Regions from separate parts of the Homo sapiens genome. Here region 2 is linked to region 1. A link means that fine-mapping ties the variant in region 1 to the expression of a gene that starts in the linked region. Tissue or cell type: whole blood. Region 1 holds a variant in brackets; the other region holds the start of a gene. All regions are shown on one strand. Distances are between the middles of the regions.

Region 1 (9,844 bases):
CAACACCCGCTACTTAGCAGACCGGGAAAGGGAGTGTCCCTTTCCCTGGAGGAGTTTAGAGAAGACTCTGCTCTTCCACCTCTTGTGGAGGGCCTGACATCCGGCAGGCCTGCCCGCAGTTATCTGGAGGCCTAACCGTCTCCCTGTGATGCTGTGCTTCAGTGGTCACGCTCCTAGTCCGCCTTCATGTTCCATCCTGTACACCTGGCTCTGCCTTCTAGATAGCAGTAGTAAATTAGTGAAAGTACTAAAAGTCTCTGATATGCAGAAGTAATGGCATAAGCTGTCTTTCTCTCTGTCTCCTCTCTCTCTCTGCCTCGGCTGCCAGGCAGGGAAGGGCACCCTGTCCAGTGGACACGTGATCCACGTGACCTTACCTATCATTGGAGATGACTCACACTCTTTACCCTGCCCCTTTTGCTTTGTATCCAATAAATAACAATGCAGCCAGACATTCGGGGCCACTACCGGTCTCCGAGCATTGGTAGTAGTGGTCTCCCGGGCCCAGCTGCCTTTTCTTTTATCTCTTTGTCTTGTGTGTGTATTTCTACACTCTCTCATTGCTGCACACAGGGAGGGAGAGACCCACGGACCCTGTGGGGCTGGTCCCTACAAATACCAATGTCAAGATTTTAGACAATAATAAACCAAGTTTAGCAAAGTGCCACACTGGATTTAATTCAGAATTGCAAAGCAGTTTCAATGCCAGAGAATCAAGAGTGTAATTCATATCAATAGATTAAAGGAGCAAAACCCACGTGACCATCTCAATGGTTGCAGAACAGGAACACAGTAAATGACGCGACAGCCATTTATAACGAGTTTTTAGCAAACTAGGAATTAAGGTATTTCCTTACTCTGATAAGGGGATTTGGAGCCAGGCATGGACCCATCTTGAAACTACATTCTGGGTCAGGCAAATGTAGATGTATTGGAGGGAAAGACATCCCCATGGGTTCCCAAGAGGTGAAGTCATCATAGTGAACTAAGGGGCCAGTGAGGGTCTGGAAAAGGCCACTGCCATCACCTGGCTACAGAGACTGAAGAGGCGGGGGGGGGTCTCGTCCTGAGCAGAGACAGGACAACTGGGTGGGCCAGTGAGGGCTGCAGGTGGGGGAAGCTGAGAACCCAGCAATATTTTACTGCCACTGGATGTCTGCACAAGGAACCTATGCCAGCCAGGGAGGTTGAGAGTGAGGCTCAGTGGGGACTGGCATACTGGCTGAGTGGATGCAGTCATTGAGCAACGCATGTCATGCATGGCGTGGGCCATCACTCTGCTGGGTGAAAGTTTCAGGAGCGAATGAGACCCAGCCCTAGCTCTCAAGGAACCCATAGTCTCATAGGTAGTGGTCCTGCAAAGTGGCCAGGGAAAGGATCGGGGTGCAGGGTGCTGAAGTCACATGGAAAGTTGTGAACGTTGCCGGTACCAAAATGGAGTCACTTATGTCAAACTAAAACAGTTGGAGGTGATGAAGCAGCCCTCACGCACACATTCCTGCAACAGGACTTACCACAAGACATTTCTACAAACAGACCAATAACAGGACTCACTGCAAGACCATCCTCAACGGTTGCAGTATTCCAGATAAGCTGCTATTCCCAAATCCATTTATTTTAGAGAGTCTATCTCTGGATTTCTTCATAGGTTGACTGTGTCATGTAGGATTCAGTATAGTGAACAAAGATTGGGGAAAGGCAGACCCCAGGCAGAAGATCAGAGGCAAGGGGGACAGTCATGCATTTGTAAGGTCTAAAAAGTTCAGTCTGCTTTTGTGATACCTGACGAATTTTCATATGTTGTGTTTTCATTCAGTTCAAAATACTTGCTAATTTCCCTTTGATTTATTCTTTGGCTAATGAGTTATTTAAAGGTATGTCATTTAGTTTCCAAATATTTGGGAATTTACCAGAGATCTTTCTGTTACTGATTTCTAGTTGAATTTCATTGTGGTCAGAGAACATACTTTGTATAACTTGAGTCCTTGGCTGGGGCGTGGTGGCTCACACCTGTAATCCCGATACTGGGAGGCTGAGGCAGGAGGATCATTTGAGCCCAGGAGATTGAGGTCAGCCTGGGCAATGCAGCGAGACCCTGTCTCTACAAAAAAATTTAAAAAATCACCCTGGGGCGGTTGCCCACGCCTATGCCTATAGTCCCAGCTACTCAGAAAGCTGAGGTGGGAGGATCACTTGAGCCCAGGAGGTTGAGGCTGCAGTGAGCCATGTTCCTGCCACTGCACTCCAGCCTGGGCAACAGAGTGAGACCGTGTATCAAAAAACAACAAAAAACCACTTGAATCTTTTTGAAGTTAACAGGGTTTGTTTCATAGCCCAGACTGTGGTCTCTCCTGGTAAATGTTCTGTGTGTGCTCGAGAAGAATGTTTTCTGCTCTTGTTGAGTCAAGTGTTTTAATGTCAGGTCCAGTGGAGTTCAAGTTCTGTATCCTTGCCAATTTTCTTTTCTTTTTTCTTTCTTTCTTTCTTTTTTTTTTCTTGAGACAGAGTTTTGCTCTTGTTGCCCAGGCTGGAGTGCAATGGCGCGGTCTTGGCTCACTGCAACCTCTGTCTCCTGGGTTCAAGCAGTTCTCCTGTCAGCCTCCTGAGTAGCTGAGATTACAGGCATGCGCCACCATGCCCGGCTAATTTTGTATTTTTAATAGAGATGGGGTTTCTCCATGTTGGTCAGGCTGGTCTCGAACTCCCGACCTCAGGTGATCTGCCTTCCTCGGCCTCCCAAAGTGCTGGGATTACAGGCGTGAGCCACTGCACCTGGTGCCAATTTTCTATCTATTCATTCTGTCAATTATTGCACTTCATCAAAAATTAAAAATTAGGAAAACAGATAAAAAGGCTCACAGTGGGAGAAAATATTTGTAAAACATACAGTATAATAAAGGACTTGTGGCCGGGCGTGGTGCCTCACTCCTGTAATCCCAGCACTTTGGGAGGCCGAGGCAGGTGGATCACTTGAGCTCAGGAGTTCAAGACCAGCCCGACCAAGATGGTGAAATCCATCTCTACTAAAAATATAAAAATTAGCCGGGCGTGGTGGCAGGTGCCTGTAATCCCAGCTACTTGGGAGGCTGAGACAGGAGAATCACTTGAACCTGGGAAACGGAGGTTGCAGTGAGCCGAGCTGTCGCCACTGCACTCCAGCCTGGAAGACAGAGCAAGACTCCATCTCAAAAAATAGTAAATAAATAAATAAATAAAATGGCATAACCATTTTGAAGGTTCGTTTTTGCATAAAGATGTCCAGTGTTCCAGGACCAGTTGCTGAAAAGACTGTCTTCGTAGAATTGCCCTTGTACCTTCATCTGAAATCAATTGGCCATAAATCTGTGTAGGTCTATTTCTAAACTGTGTGTTCTGTTCCCCTGAACCTTTCGCCAGCGCCACACCGTCTTAATCACTGCAGCTCTATAGTAAGTGTTGAAATCGGGTAGCATGAGTCTTCCAACTTTGTTCTTTTTGAAATTGTTTTATTTCACATTTACTACATATAGTCATTACTTAATCTGCATTTGCTCTTAAAAAATGTAGCTCTTCTGGTTTTTAGGAAGGCTTGATTTTTTTTGGGTCTAGTTGCTACTTACTGTTCATACCCTTAAATAATATCTTTAGTCCCCTCAACCTTTAAAAGAGTTCTCATAGTTCCCTACTATGAAATAATTTGTAAACCTTTCCCCTCTCTCCCTTCTCTCTCTTTTCTACCACCCATGGTTTTTTTTGTTTTTTTTTTTGAGACAGGCCTCGCTCTGTCACCCAGGCTGGAGTGGAATGGCGCCATCTCAGCTCACTGCAACCTCTACCTCCCAGGTTCAGGCGATTCTCCTGCTCCAGCCTCCCTAGTAGCTGGGATTACAGATGCGCGCCACCAAGCCTGGCTAATTTTTGTATTTTTAGTAGAGATGGATTTCACCATGTTGGCCAGGCTGGTCTCGAACTCCTGACCTCAGGTGATCCACCTGCCTCGGCCTCCCAAAGTGCTGGGATTACAGGTGTGAGCCACCATGCCCGGCCCACCCATTTTTTGAATGAATACTATTATATTTCTTAGTATTTGCCTCTGTCCTCTTTAATATGCTAAACTTCTCAGTTTGTCAGCATTAAGTGATGTCTTTAGAATCCAACTATAATATGAAGGAATCAGCAGGGCGATTCTATTTTCCATCCTCTCTCTGCTTTCTTGTCTCATACTGTTATAGCTGCCTTTGTAAAATTGTTTTTTTACACATTCTGTTACCTTTGTGTATGAGTTTGCTAGGGCTGCCATTAACAAAGCACCGCAGAGCAGCTTAGGTGAGAGGAATTCATTGTTCACAGCTCTGGAGGGCAGGGGTCCAGTCCAGACATCAGCAGGGTTGGTTTCTTCTGAGGACCCTGAGTGAAGGCTGTTCCTGGGTGCTGTCCTTGGCCTGCAAACAGCATCCTCTCATCTTCCCCCTGTGCCTGTCTGTGGGTCCTGATTGCCTCTTCTTATAATAAGGACACCAGTCACATTGGATTAGAGCCCACCTTAGTGACCTCATCTTAACTAATAACATTTGCAGTGACACCATTTCCAAACAAGGTCACGTTCTGTGGTGCTTGGGGTTAAGACATCAGTGTGTGGATTTGGCAGGGAACACACCGTACGTACCCATCACAACTTGCTGCTGTTTTTATCTCGGTCCCTGTCCTCTAGTTGAATATGTGAGTGCTCACTCCCTGTTCCTCTTACTATCTGTGATCATCTCTCAGTTAACTAAAATTCACTCTAGTACAGCGGTACTTTTGACCAACATTTTTTGCCCCAGTGACTGGTTTCTTGGAAGACAATTTTTCCATGGACAGTAGGGGTGGTGGGAGGGATGGTTTGGGGATGAAACTGTGCCACTTCAGATCATCAGGCATTAGATTTTCATTAGGAGTGAGCAACCTAGATCCCTCGCATGCGCAGTTCACAGTAGGGTTTGCACTTCTATGAAGATCTAATGCCACCGCTGATCTGACAGGAGGCAAAGCTCAGCAGTAATGCTCCGCCTCAATTCGTTTGTTTTAGCAAAGTTGTCTGGACTTCTACCTTGGAGTCTGTCCTGTCTTGGCTCTGCCCTGCCAGCCAAGGACCTGCCTGCTGCTGCCTCCCCACCGCTGCTTCCCCTGCTGCTGCCTCCCCCGCCACCGCCTCTCCTGCCTGCTTGCTCTGCTGCTGTTGTGCCTCTTCACGTCCCTGTTTCTTCCTGGCTGCACTTTCCACAGCATCTCTAGACTTGTGTCTGTGGCCTTTGCTTCCAGTCCTTCCTAAGTTCCACCAG[CACCTGTCCACCTGT/T]TCTTCCTGGGGCCGCAGAGTTCCCCATGGCCATTTCCGCTGCAGCCACTCCCCTGGCCACTTCCCCAGCTGCATCATGGGGCTGCCCGCTGGCTTGCCACTTTCACTTGGCTTTGTGGCAGTGGTTTTCTCTGTGTTTTCTTCATCTGCAGGGAAGTCTTGCTGTTCCCTTTTTGTTTGTTTGTTTTTGAGACAGGGTCTTGCTTTGTTGCCTGGGCTGGAGTGCAGTGACATAGTCACAACTCACTGCAGTCTTGACCTCCTGGGCTTAAGCGATCCTCCCGCCTCAGCCTCCCAAAGTGCTGGGATTCAGGAGTGAGCACTGCACTGGCCACCCGCTCCTTTTAGGTTTCTTTTTTCCCTCTGGTATCTTTGGGTGGATATTGATACTCATATTTGGATGAATTGGGTTTCCTGGATTGGGAGGGTGGGGCTGGCAGAGCCCAGAGTATAACTTTTCTGGTTTTGAGCCTGCCCCTCTCCTGACGTGCAGTAGCCTCTAGTATGGGCTGCCTCTGTGGCAGGGCAGGCTGAGTGCCGGAGCCCAGTAGGGCCAGGAGCGCCTCCACCACCATCCACAAGATCCCCTCTTATCTGGAAGTGGAGTGTCCACCCAGCACCCATGCCCCACTTCCGTGTGTGTTTCCGCAGCTCCACTCCCTGCTGGTGTTCAGCCCCTTCCCAGCAGTCCCATTCAGGCTAGGGCCTTCTCCTTCTGGGGTGTGACCCTGAGGGTTTCCTGTTCCCACCTCCTCCCGGCTTTCTCCACGCTCCCGCTGCCCCCCGACACCTGTTCACCCTCGGGACTCCATGCATAGTCTGCTTGTCTTTAAAATATAATAATTATTTTTTGGACACAGGGTCTCCCTGCGTTGCCCAGGCTGGAGTGCAGTGGCTCTTCACAGGTGCAATTATACTGCACTGCGGCCACAAACTCCTGGCCTCAAGCGATCCTCCCACCTCAGCCTCCCAAGTAGCTGAGACCACAAGTGCATGCTATTAAGCCTGGCTTAAAAAACAACGTATTTATTGAAAATTTGAGGTTCAGTAAGGCCACCAGATCAGGAGATAATTGCCATTGAAAGGATAGTTTACGACAGTTTCCAGGAGAAGGGGTACCCCAAGCCACACAGGGCCACACGGGGAAGTGCTGGAGTCGGTCAGGAGGCAGGAGAGGGCAGAACTGTGGGTGAAGCCCGTAATGTGGTTTCCATGGGAGGGGGTGGGCGAGGCGGTAGGGAGGCTTAGGCTTGGCTCATTTGAATGATTTCAGCGCGCTCTGGGGTGTAACACCTGCATGCTCAGTGAGCTCCTCGAGGAATCCCCCGTATCGCTGCAGTAATTCCCGTATACGCCTTGTGAGGGCTGCACACAGGCTGTAGTGGCCCTTCTGCAGCTCAGCGTGGATGGCTTCTCCAGGGTCAGCCAGAAGCAGTGGGGTCAGAGCGAAAACCAGGGCTTCCTGGCTGTGACGCATGTGCCTTCAGCCACTGAGCTGCCCTGCTTACCCCACAGGAATTGGGAAGACATCAGGGAGGGCTTACTGGGGAAGGTGAGCATCAACCTTGACCCTGAACGATGGGAAAATTAGGATGGCAGAAAAGGGCATTCAAGAAAGGAAGAATTGGCCAGGCACAGTGGCTCACGCCTGTAATCCCAACACTTGGGGAGGCCGAGGCGGGCGGATCACCTGAGGTCAGGAGTTCAAGACCAGCCTGGCTAACATGGTGAAACCCCATCTCTACTGAAAATACAAAAAATTAGCCAGGTGTGGTGGCAGGCGCCTAATCCCTGCTGCTTGGGAGACTGAGGCAGGAGAATCACTTGAACCAGGGAGGCGGAAGTTGCAGTGAGCTGAGATCCCACCATTGCACTCCAGCCTGGGCGACAGAGTGAAACTCCATCTCAAAAAAAAAAAAAAAAAAAAGATACAAAAATTAGCCAGATGCGGTGGCACATGCCTGTAGTTCCAGCTACTTGGGAGGCTGAGACAGGAGAATCGCTTGAACCAGGACGGGGAGGTTGCAGTGAGCCTAGATCATGCCACTGCACTCCAGCCTGGGTGACAGAGTGAGACTCCAACCCCCTCCCCCCGCAAAAAAGGAAGAATTATATATATGATTATTATATATTATATACATATTACATGTACTATATAGAGAGATGATACATAGATATAGATCTATAAACAGATGGGATCTTGCTATGTTGGTCTTGAACTCCTGGCCTCAAGCAATTCTCCTGTCTCGGCCTCCCAAAGTGCTGGGATTACCAGCGTGAGCCACTGCTCCTGGTCAAGAGAGGAAGAATTTTTTGTTTTCTCAAACAAAGGAAGGGAAGGTTCTGACACGTGGGAAGTTTCCCCAGGGACGGAGTCCCTGTAAGGACAACGGGGCCGCGCAGAGCCTGGACGCTCAGGCCAAGGACTGACATGTCCCCAGAGCAGAAGGGCTGTGTCTGAGTCCCCGGTGAGGGTCGTGAGGACAGAAGACTCAAGCCCAGCAATACAGGCTGGGGCAAAAACACAGACGGGGTGGTCAACTGCGGGACAGAGATCAGCAGGAACTGTGGCTGTGCTGGCAGGATCCACTAACTACATAAAGTCATCAGTAAACATGGACAGTACATTTTTTATTTTTTTGAAATGGACTCTTGTTCTGTCACCCAGAATGGAGTGCAGTGGTGCGATCTCAGCTCACTGCAACCTCTGTCTCCCAGGTGCAAGCGATGCTCCTGCCTCAGCCTCCTGAGTGGCTATTACAGGTGCACACCACCACACCCGGCTAATTTTTATATTTTTAGTAGAGATGGGGTTTCACCATGTTGGCCAGGCTGGTCTCGAACTCCTGACCTCAGGTGATCCGCCCGCCTCGGCCTCCCAAAGTGCTGGGATTATAGGCATGAGCCACCATGCCCGGCCCATGGGCAGTACATTTGTGGGCTGGTGGGAGAGGGCTTGTCTTGGGCCTGTGCAGCTCCTCAGTTTCTCAGTCACCATGATCCTTGGAAAAGAGAAGATTCCAGGAAAGAGTAGAGAGATGACCTGGTTCCCCAGTATCAGGAAGGCGGAAGTGGCAAAGGGAGCAGAGACATTCAACGGTTCACGGGCAGAGCCAGGCCATGGGGGAAGGACCTTCTAAGATAGCCAGAGGCTGTGAATCCACATACAGGGTAGTGACACACACGCTCGACTCAGACTTTTGGGTCCTGTCCATAGCTGTGAAAGGGTACACTCGGGGACCTGCTGCGAAGGTTTGTTGTGCAGTCTCATGAGATGACACCAGCAGTGTGGTGAGACTCCTGCCTGGGCCGTGGCAAGATCTTGATCATGTTTAGCTCCTTTTTCACGAAGAAAGCTCTGCAGCCTGGGCCTGCCATACCCAGGGCGGGGAGGGGGGTGACTGCTCTTCGCTGATGCTCCAGTGAAAGGGGGGCACCTGGGCCCGAGGCAGATGCAACGGAGTTCCCAGTGACCAGCAGCCGGAATGACCTCTCTGAGCACGTCTGCATTCAACAAACCTGGACCAGGCTCAGCACAGGCCAGGCGGGGCACTGCAGGCATATCTGTGGAATGAGAGAATGAAGCTCCCCAAACACCCAGGCCTGAAAGAGGAGCAACAAGAAAGGAGTGAAGGAGTGGGGAGGAGCAGCGAAGAAACTTCCTGAGCGCCTCCTCCTGGCAGGACCTCCCATCCATCGTCTCTGACCCTCACAGAGTTCTACAAGGGAGTCTTCTCACCAAGCAGGCACTCCACGGAGTTGGGGTTTCTGCCCGCATTATTCAGCAATGAGGCCGCAACCAGAATGGTGCCTGGCACTTAGTGGGCGTTCAGCAATTCTCTCTCTCTCTTTTTTTTTTTTAAGACAGAGTTTCGCTCTCGTTGCCCAGGCTGGAGTGCAATGGTGCTATCTTGGCTCACTGCAACCTCCACCTCCCAGGATCAAGTGATTCTCCTGCCTCAGCCTCCCGAGTAGCTGGGATTACAGGTGCCTGACACCACGCCCAGCTAACATTTTTGTATTTTTAGTAGAGACAGGGTTTCACCATGTTGGGCAGGCTGGTCTTGAACTCCTGACTTCAGGTGATCCACTGGTCTTGGCCTCCCAAAGTGCTGGGATTACAGGTGTGAGCCTCTGCGCCCAGCCAGCAAATGTCTCTTGAATGAATGAATGCCAGTGTGATCGATGCTGAAGCTGTGATGAGCAAGGATGTGACACGTCTGAGGTCACAGATGCTGGACTTTCACCCCGATCCCACTGCAGGGCCTCTGTCTGCCATGGATTTTTTTTTCTTTCTTTTCTTTTTGAGACAGAGTCTCACTCTGTCGCCCAGGCTGGAGTGCAGTGGCACAGTCTCGGCTCACTGCAACCTCCGCCTCCCAGGCTTAAGTGATTCTCCTGCCTCAGCCTCCTGAGTGGCTGGGACTACAGGTGCATGCCACGATGCCTGGATAATTTTTGTATTTTTGGTAGAGACAGGGTTTCACCATCTTGGTGAGGCTGGTCTTGAACTCCTGACCTAAAGTGATC
Region 2 (8,000 bases), 24 kb before region 1:
TGATGGTGGCAGGGAGCCTTTTACCAACCACGAAGGTGCCTCAAGAGAGGAAGACTTTGCCTGTGTGGCACTGCCAGGGCTCCACTGAGCCAGCCCTGTTTTAAAAGCCTTCCTTGGTGCTCTAGTTGTTCCTATGGGTGCCTGAGTGACCATGAGTGACTGTCTTTAGTCAAAAACCCTCCCCACCTGAAGTAGCACTTTCATTACCCTAGAGTCACCATCCTGGTAAATAGAGGGTTCGTTCCCAGGAAGAAAGTGAATCCTGAAACCCGGCAGAAAGGCCAGGTAAGGGACATGGACTCTTCCTACTTTAGAGAAGGCTCTGGGAGTCCACCAGGCTCCATGCAATCTCACACACCTTCCTTTATAGATTGAGGGAGAAGTGGACCTCATTGGGATGGTGAGGCTGACAGAAACCAGGCAGCCTTTTGTCCCTGAGAACAATCCAGAAAGGAACCACTGGCATTATCGAGACCTGGAAGCTATGGCCAGAATCACAGGCGCAGAGCCCATCTTCATTGATGCCAACTTCCGTACGTTGTGGACCAGCCCATCTCGGAACAAGTAGCTTTTGTGAATACTGTCCTTCCTCCTAACCCTCATTGCCCAGTCACTACTGTGGCTTATGTTCTCACATGTGTATATGGCGGGTGGGAGGAGGCAGCAACTCAGCAAAGAACCTAGGCAAGTACTGAGCGGACAAGGGCGGGGATGGTCACCCAACGTAAAGGCCATACAGGACTTCCAACTGGCCACGCAAAAATGACAGCCACTAGGAAGTGGTGCAGAGGCTGGCAGGCCAGTAGGGGGTGGACTTGAGTCTGCTGTCTCCACAGAGAGCACAGTCCCTGGAGGACCCATTGGAGGGCAAACCAGAGTTACTCTGAGGAACGAGCATCTGCAGTACATCGTGACCTGGTGAGTCCCCAGCGGCCCTCTGGCTTCCTCCCCTTCAGCCTAGCAGCCTGCTAATGCTGGCTTGCTTTCAACCCCTAGGTATGGACTCTCTGCAGCTACATCCTACCTGTGGTTTAAGAAATTCCTACGTGGGACACCTGGTGTGTGACAGATCAGCTGCTGAAGCCCTGTCCCTGGATAATGCAGTATTTCAAGACTGCCTTTATGCTGGATCATGTGCTACTGGTATAAAGTTCTGGCCTTCTACCTTAAATGAGCTCATGACTGGTTCATCATAAAATCCTGGCTTGGTTTCAGTCCAAAGAACTTTCCCAAAACTTGATACTCAAGTTACATCTCTAGGGAACAAAATGCCTGGTTTAAGAATGTATTTAAGGGTGGGAAGGGCCGGGTGCGGTCAGGAGCTCAGACCAGCCTGGCTAACATGGTGAAACCCCATCTCTACCAAAAACACAAATATGGGCCAGCCAGTTGGGATGCTGAGGCACCAGAATATCCTAAACCTGGGAGGCGAAGGTTGCTTTGACATCACACCACTGCACTCCAGCCTGGGCGACAGAGTGAGGCTGTGTCTCAAAAAGATACTTGCTAACCCCAAGTAAGATTCAACCCGAGATACTCAACAGACACTGGCTGAAGGAAAATTTGTATTATTTCAATTATTTTTATGTACAGAAAACTCAACAGTGTACATTTAACCCAGTTTAGTGGCAAGTTCTTTAGCCTTTGCCTTTTCGAGCTTGGCGATACGAGCCACAGACTTAGGACCCAGGACATTGCCACCCCAGTGACGGCGGATCTGAAAAGACAAAAAGAGGCAGTTAGCTTGGCTTACTGTTTTCTGAGATTTTCAAGGTTATTAGTTGCGTTAATTCTGTTTGGCTGTTCCAAGCTGATCGTCAGATAGAACTTCTCATAGGTTAAGCCAGCCAGTTATTTGGGAGAAAGATTTGTGAATGACAGTATTTTGGTGTAAAGCTGCCTCTTACCTCATCGTATCTGTCATTGTAATTGGTCCTGATAGCTTCCACCAGCTTAGCCAAAGCGCCTTTGTCTTCCCTAAAAGGCAGGAGGGGAAACAAAAGTGGGTTTTTTGCCTTAGTTTCCCTTTTAGAATGCAAAAATACCTTTTAGCTCAAGACAGTCTTTTGCCTCAGATGCAATGCTGACCACATGGTTTATTCAGGTGAAGAAATTCTTAACCATCATTGGCAAAAGTTCAGATAAATATATTTCTTAAACTAAAAGATTGGCCTTTAAGGCAAAAGGAAACAACTGTGAGGCATGGATTAAATGAACTGGGGGGAAGTTTGGGGCCAGGCTGTGTACTTACGAGTTCACCTGTGTGAAGGCGACAGTGGTGCAGGTCTTCCTGTGGACTAGACGTCCCAGTCTTGCCTTTCCCTTGATAATGCAGTAAGGGACCCCCATTTTACGACACAGGGCAGGCAAGAAGACAACCAGCTGGAAGAAAGCATTAGCTGAAGACTGTATTTTGACCAAAAGCAGCAAATTTCAGTTAGCTTGTAACAATTGCTCAGGGTTAAAAAGCTCATGGATTCGCACTTCAAGGTTGAATTCAGTGAGAGATTCACATCATTGCAAGAGCCACGCATGTGTTGGATCTGTGTCAGTACTGCCCTCACCCACTTCGGTCCCATCACTGACTTGGCATTAGGTCTACTCTCTCTTCCTGGTACTGCCAGAAGCCCTTGGGTTAGCAGTCAACAGGCAAACGCACCTCGATGGGATCCACGTCGTGTGCAATCACCACCAGCTGAGCTTTCTTGTTCTCCACCAAGGTGGTGACGGTGTTAACTCCTAGAACACACAACCACTTTGTGAGCACTCACAGGGCCTGCTCTAGTCACAAGAAGCTGCTGGGCTCAGCTGCTGACTCAGTGTTAAAAAGCTCGGTTTTACTCTTCACAGTAATTTCAGGCCAAGAAATTTTACATCACTGCAACAGCCCGCCCCCAGTGTTCACCCTAAGGTGGGGCCTACTCACCTGCTCGAAGGACAGGTGGTCTCTTCGTTGGGACGTCCCCTTTGCCAGCAGCCTTCTTCTCGGCCCGGGCCAACAGTCTCTGCTTCTTCTCTTGCTTTGTCTCTGGTCTGTACTTGTGGGCCAGCTTAAGCAGCTGAGTAGCTGGAAAAACACTCTTCAGTTTAGGCTTGGAGTCAAGGTTCTAATCCTTGTCACTTAACACTTAATAACAAATGCTGGACTGCGGTCCTGCTATATGACTATAATTTAATGACAACTGCAGTTCAAGAAGCCTAAGACCATCCCCCTCATGTTCTGGATGAAATAAGGAATCCTTGCCTGAGAAACTCCTTTCCACGCCACAGAACCTCACCTGTTTGGCGGTCCAGGGCCTGGGTGAACTGGTTAATCGCAGGAGGCACTTTCAGCCGCTTATAGAGGATGGCTCTCTGCCGCTGCAACCTGATATAGCGGGGCCATTTCACAAAGCGGGTGAGGTCTCTTTTGGGCTGGATGTCCTGTCCTGAGAAGTAAAGGGTGACACCGAGTGAGGCTCAAATTCCATGTCAAGTTCATGTCTGGGGCCACTAGGAAGGGTGTTGGTGCATCAGCGATCTTGGTGGTTTAAAATGTCATCACCATCTCTCAGATAGCAAATATTCTTTTACATCATCTGCACACAAACACCTGAGAACAAAGAGCACGATGCTTTTCCTCATCTAACAAGAAGCCAAGGTGCCACGAAGTACAGCAGAATTGCAGTCCTAGTACCTCGCTGCGACACTGCTACTGTACTTGTTTCCAGATGGCTAAGCTGAATTCAAGGCCACTACCATATTGAGCTGAATGCTCGCTCAGCAACTCCCAATGAAAGCAAGAAGCATGTATCATTGCCCCCGTCTCTAAGAGACACAAATTAAGGACTGCGACCACTTTACACCCACTAAAACCTACAAGATACAACACAACCCAATTACCACCTTCCCTTGAGAAAAACATAGACCGTTTTCATTCTGCCGTTTGTTACTTACCAATGCCAAAATTCTTAGGCCTTTTCTCAAACAGGGGATTCACCACTTTCTTAGCCTCCTGCTTCTTCACGACAGCTGGGGCCGGAGCCACCTTCTTTCCCTTGGCCTTCTTTCCTTTCGGCTGGGCAGAAAGAAAACGTCAGTTAAACCGCCGCCTCCACTCGCTTCGTCGGGGGTAGGGCTCAGGCTGGCTCCTCCAAAACAAGGGACGCTGACAGCACCTGCCTGAACTAAGCTGGCGAGCAGCTTTCTGCAACCCCCCAGCACCACCCCTCGACAGGAGCATCTCACATTCAGCCGCACAAGCATGCAGCCCCGGGAACCCCGAGTGGCCAGAGCAAGGCTAAGCCCGAGACCACGCTCTCTTCGCGTCGCCCACCCAGGAGACACCCCGGACTCATGACTCCTCTGAGTCGCGGCCCCACAGGCTCTAGAAGCAACAGGGGCGGGCTCAGAACTCGTCGCTCACAAGGCCTCTGGAGCGGCCCCCAGCAAGCCCGAGAGACGCTAGGGCTCCGAGCCCCGCACTGCGGTGCTCCAGGCCTGCGACACCCAGCCCTGCGACACCGGGAACAACGCATTCCGCTCTCGGCCGCCCGGGGCTCTAGTCCATCTCAATGTCTCCGTGCCACACCAAGTGGGGCTCTAATCCACCTCGGTGTCTCCGTGCCACACCGAGTGGGGCTCTCCTAGCGCCAGGAGGAGCAGGAGGCCCTCCGAGGCCGCGCCTGGAGGAGGATGGCAGCGGATACAGCCGGAACCTGGCTATAGTGCCACGGAACTACAGCTCACTCACCATCTTGGGCGGCGGGAGGAGAGAGAAAGGAAAGGGAATTGTGGGTAATATGTATGCGGCCTCGGAGATCGCGAGAGTTGATACCGGCACGGGATTTCGGATTTAAAGCAACAGCATTCCTATAAAGCTAAAAATCGAGGCGGGGCCGAGAGGCTGCGGCGGCTGACTAGGTTTTCGGACCGCGGCGCGGCGGGGAAGAGAGACTGCGGCGGGAGGGCCAGGCCGTGGGAGAGACGCGGGAAAGTGCGGGTCGCAGAGGCACTTGACCACCCCGCCCTAGGCCGACCCGGCGGACGCGGCGTCTGGTGTGCGGGCGCTGGGGCGGGTATGAGGGTGTGGTGGGGGGTGGGGATGGAGGGGGGGTGGGTGTGTGGGCGGGAGTGGGGGTGGGTGGGTGCGTAGGCGCTGGGGTCGGAGATCCCCTTTCCTGCGTGTGACTTATTTCCCACACCCCGCCAAAAATGGGCACAAACAATGCGAGTGCGTCCAGGAGTCCGCTCGGTCGTGCGCCAGACTCCGAACCTAGGGGGCCCCGGGCCCTCCCTGAGCACCGCGCGCAAAGGCCCGGCCCCAGGGCCAGGCAACTCCAGCGCCGAGGCCGTCCAGTGCGGCTGGAGGGCAGAGGCCGAGAGGCGCGGCGCGGAACTTGAGCCCCTTGTCCCGGCGCACCGGGGAACCATGAGGGATGTTAAGCGAGGGAGTGGAATTACCCCCCTTTTTTTTTTCTTTTGGAGACGTAGTCTCCCCCTGTCGCCCAGGCTGGAGTGCAGTGGCGCGATCTCGGCTCACTGCGACCTGTGCTTCCCGGGTTCAAGCGATTCTCCTGCCTCAGCCTCCCGAGTAGCTGGGATTACAGGCGCCTGCCATCACGCCCGGCTAATTTTTGTATTTTTAGTAGAGTTGGGGTTTCACCATGTTGGTCAGGCTAGTCTCAAACTCCTGACCTCAGGTGATCCCTGCCTCGGCCTCCCAAAGTGCTGGGATTACAGGCGTGAGCCACCGCGCCCGGTTGGAATGACCACTTTTTAGGACCTCTTCCCTGCCGCGCAGAGACTGGAGGGAGCGGGGCCCGCAGTGCAGGGATGAGGTCTGGAGCGGGGCAGCCTGAGTGGGAGTGGAAGGAAAGCGTGGATGTAGGCGGTGCAGAGGGGTCGAATTGGAAGGACTCTTCGGATGGGAGGGCGTGGCGAAGGTGGCGGCGGGCTAAGAAGTTAAGCCAAGGGCTGGGGACGGGGAGCTGGTGTTGAGTTTGCAGGGCTCCCTGGGACACGCTGTGGGCCTGGACGTGAAGTCTGGACTGGAGCCCTGGACAGGGCTTGGAGGGCTGGCCAGGAGTTCCAGGATGAGCTTGCTCTGGCAAAGGCGGGGCCAGTCCTGGCACCCCCTGCGGTGTCTGCTGATGGAATGAGTTCATCTGTGTTTCAGTGATTGACTTTATTTGGCAGAAAGGGAATCCCCAGAAATCTGCGTGTTCTGCTAAGGTTGGGGCATAGAGGGTGGCTGGGGTAGACTCTGCCTGCACTCAGAGGTCTGTGCTGCACTCTAGGTCCCAGGTCTCCCCGCTGCGCTGCTTGAGGCTCGGCCATGGCCCAGCAGAGAGCCCTGCCCCAGAGCAAGGAGACGCTGCTGCAGTCCTACAACAAGCGGCTGAAGGACGACATTAAGTCCATCATGGACAACTTCACCGAGATCATCAAGACCGCCAAGGTGGGGGTGGGGTGGCCCACCAAGGGGAGCAGAGTCTGAGAAGGGGTGGAGACAGGAGAGGCCAGGGGCTGAGCAGCGCGAGTGAATAGTGTTCTAGGCAGGAAGCACCCAGTGCACAGGGAGCTGGTCAGTAGATAAGCAAACCAAATAATGGCACGTCCAGCCCTTACTAACAGTATGGATTTGGATGGAGATTTCACTTTTTAGTGCCTCAGTTTCTCCTGCATGGTGGGGTCCTTGTGATGACTGGTGAGTTTATCTGTGTAAAACAGTTACCTCGGGGCCTGGCACACAGCCAATGAGCAGGAGAAAAGCAGACTGAGGGGAGAAGTGGGGGGGGGCCTCCAGGCAGGTGGAGCGGTCAGCACTGGGGCCTGCAAGCCTGCTGACCACTGCAGCTACAGCTGCATCAGATTGGGCTGGATCCCTCCTGGCTGCTGCAGACCTGGCAGGCTCCATAAGCGATGATGATGAGGATGGAAGCTAGCATGTACTTAGTGCTTGCCATGTATCAAGCCACGTTGTGAGGTTATCTGTGCCTGTTCTGCTGAATCTTCATGAGGACTCTGTGAGGTGGGCACTGTTGTCCTCTTCATTTCAGGAGGAAACCCAGGCCCAGGAGACTTAGTGACTTGCCCAAGGTCACTCAGCTCACAACTGGCTGAGCCAGGATTTGAACCCACGAAGTCTGGGTCTTAACCACTGAGGGTACCTGACACCCACCCCGAACTGAGCCTTTGCAAGGCCTGCCGGGAAGCCCCATCCAGCCTCGCTTGGCCACCTATACACCAGGGGTGGCAGGCCAGGCTTCTGTGAAACTGGCATGGGTTAATGGTGGTCAAGTGCATGACACAGCCTGGCACCTGGGAAGTGATCAGGAAATGGTCGCGAAAAAAAACTTAAATCATCCCTTCACTCATCCAACAGTTTACCAAATGCCAAGCAAGTGACAACGGTTCCTACCAAACAGGGCTCCCACAGCCCAAAAAGACCGGGCCAAGATAAGCCCCCATCCCTGCACCTAGTACAGCAAGCAGCGTGGGTTGCCTCTATTTGTCTTGAGCAAAGGTGCATGTTGTCTCCCATGGCCAGAACAAGAGAGGGTGGAATTGAACCTTGTCAGAGGTCTGGCTGACAGCGCTTAGGTCTGTAGATGGCACCACAGACAGGTTGTGGCCAGTGTGGACATCCTGGGTAGATGACAGTTACCGTAAGCTGGGCTGGGCCGGGCCAGGGGTGGGGATGCCTTGGCTGGGTTGATTTCTAGGTTTTCTTGTTTTCCCCCAGATTGAGGACGAGACGCAGGTGTCACGGGCCACTCAGGGTGAACAGGACAATTACGAGATGCATGTGCGAGCCGCCAACATCGTGAGTGGCCAGGGTGGAGGGCACGGCCTGGGCTCCAAGAGCATCAGTCCCCTCAGGTTTCCTGGGTGGAGTGGAGGGGGCTCTGGGGCTGGTCTGGTCTTCTTCCCCCGAGAAGGAGCAGAAGGAGGCAAATGTAGAGATGCTTTGGTTTCACCACTCGGCAGCTTTAAAGAATGAGGTGGGGGCAAATCAT

What was found. PIP is the estimated chance that this variant, and not a neighbour inherited with it, causes the effect.
Region 2: MED22 starts here. The variant in region 1 is fine-mapped to the expression of MED22 in whole blood (TOPMed, PIP 0.96).

The regions. Positions count from the first base shown.
Region 1 is chr9:133,319,596-133,329,439 of GRCh38, reverse strand. SURF6 (surfeit 6) reads left to right here. Exons shown (of 5, transcript NM_006753.6): 5 at 1-664. Among named protein-coding and RNA genes, the nearest start is that of SURF6, 12 kb to the left of the region's middle. The variant CACCTGTCCACCTGT/T (reference allele first, on the strand shown) is at 5,301.
Region 2 is chr9:133,344,979-133,352,978 of GRCh38, reverse strand. MED22 (mediator complex subunit 22) reads left to right here and starts at 4,848. Exons shown (of 5, transcript NM_133640.5): 1 at 4,848-5,057; 2 at 6,279-6,439; 3 at 7,727-7,807. The coding sequence starts at 6,317. RPL7A (ribosomal protein L7a) reads right to left here and starts at 4,761. Exons shown (of 8, transcript NM_000972.3): 1 at 4,733-4,761; 2 at 3,937-4,057; 3 at 3,279-3,428; 4 at 2,927-3,067; 5 at 2,660-2,739; 6 at 2,252-2,382; 7 at 1,908-1,977; 8 at 1,553-1,717. The coding sequence starts at 4,735. The coding sequence ends at 1,613. SURF1 (SURF1 cytochrome c oxidase assembly factor) reads left to right here. Exons shown (of 9, transcript NM_003172.4): 6 at 213-285; 7 at 371-533; 8 at 837-918; 9 at 997-1,221. The coding sequence ends at 1,066. SNORD24 (small nucleolar RNA, C/D box 24) reads right to left here and starts at 3,583; the gene lies at 3,509-3,583. It also overlaps SNORD36B, SNORD36A and SNORD36C. RefSeq lists enhancers at 4,340-4,809, 4,671-4,965, 6,270-6,771, 6,772-7,275.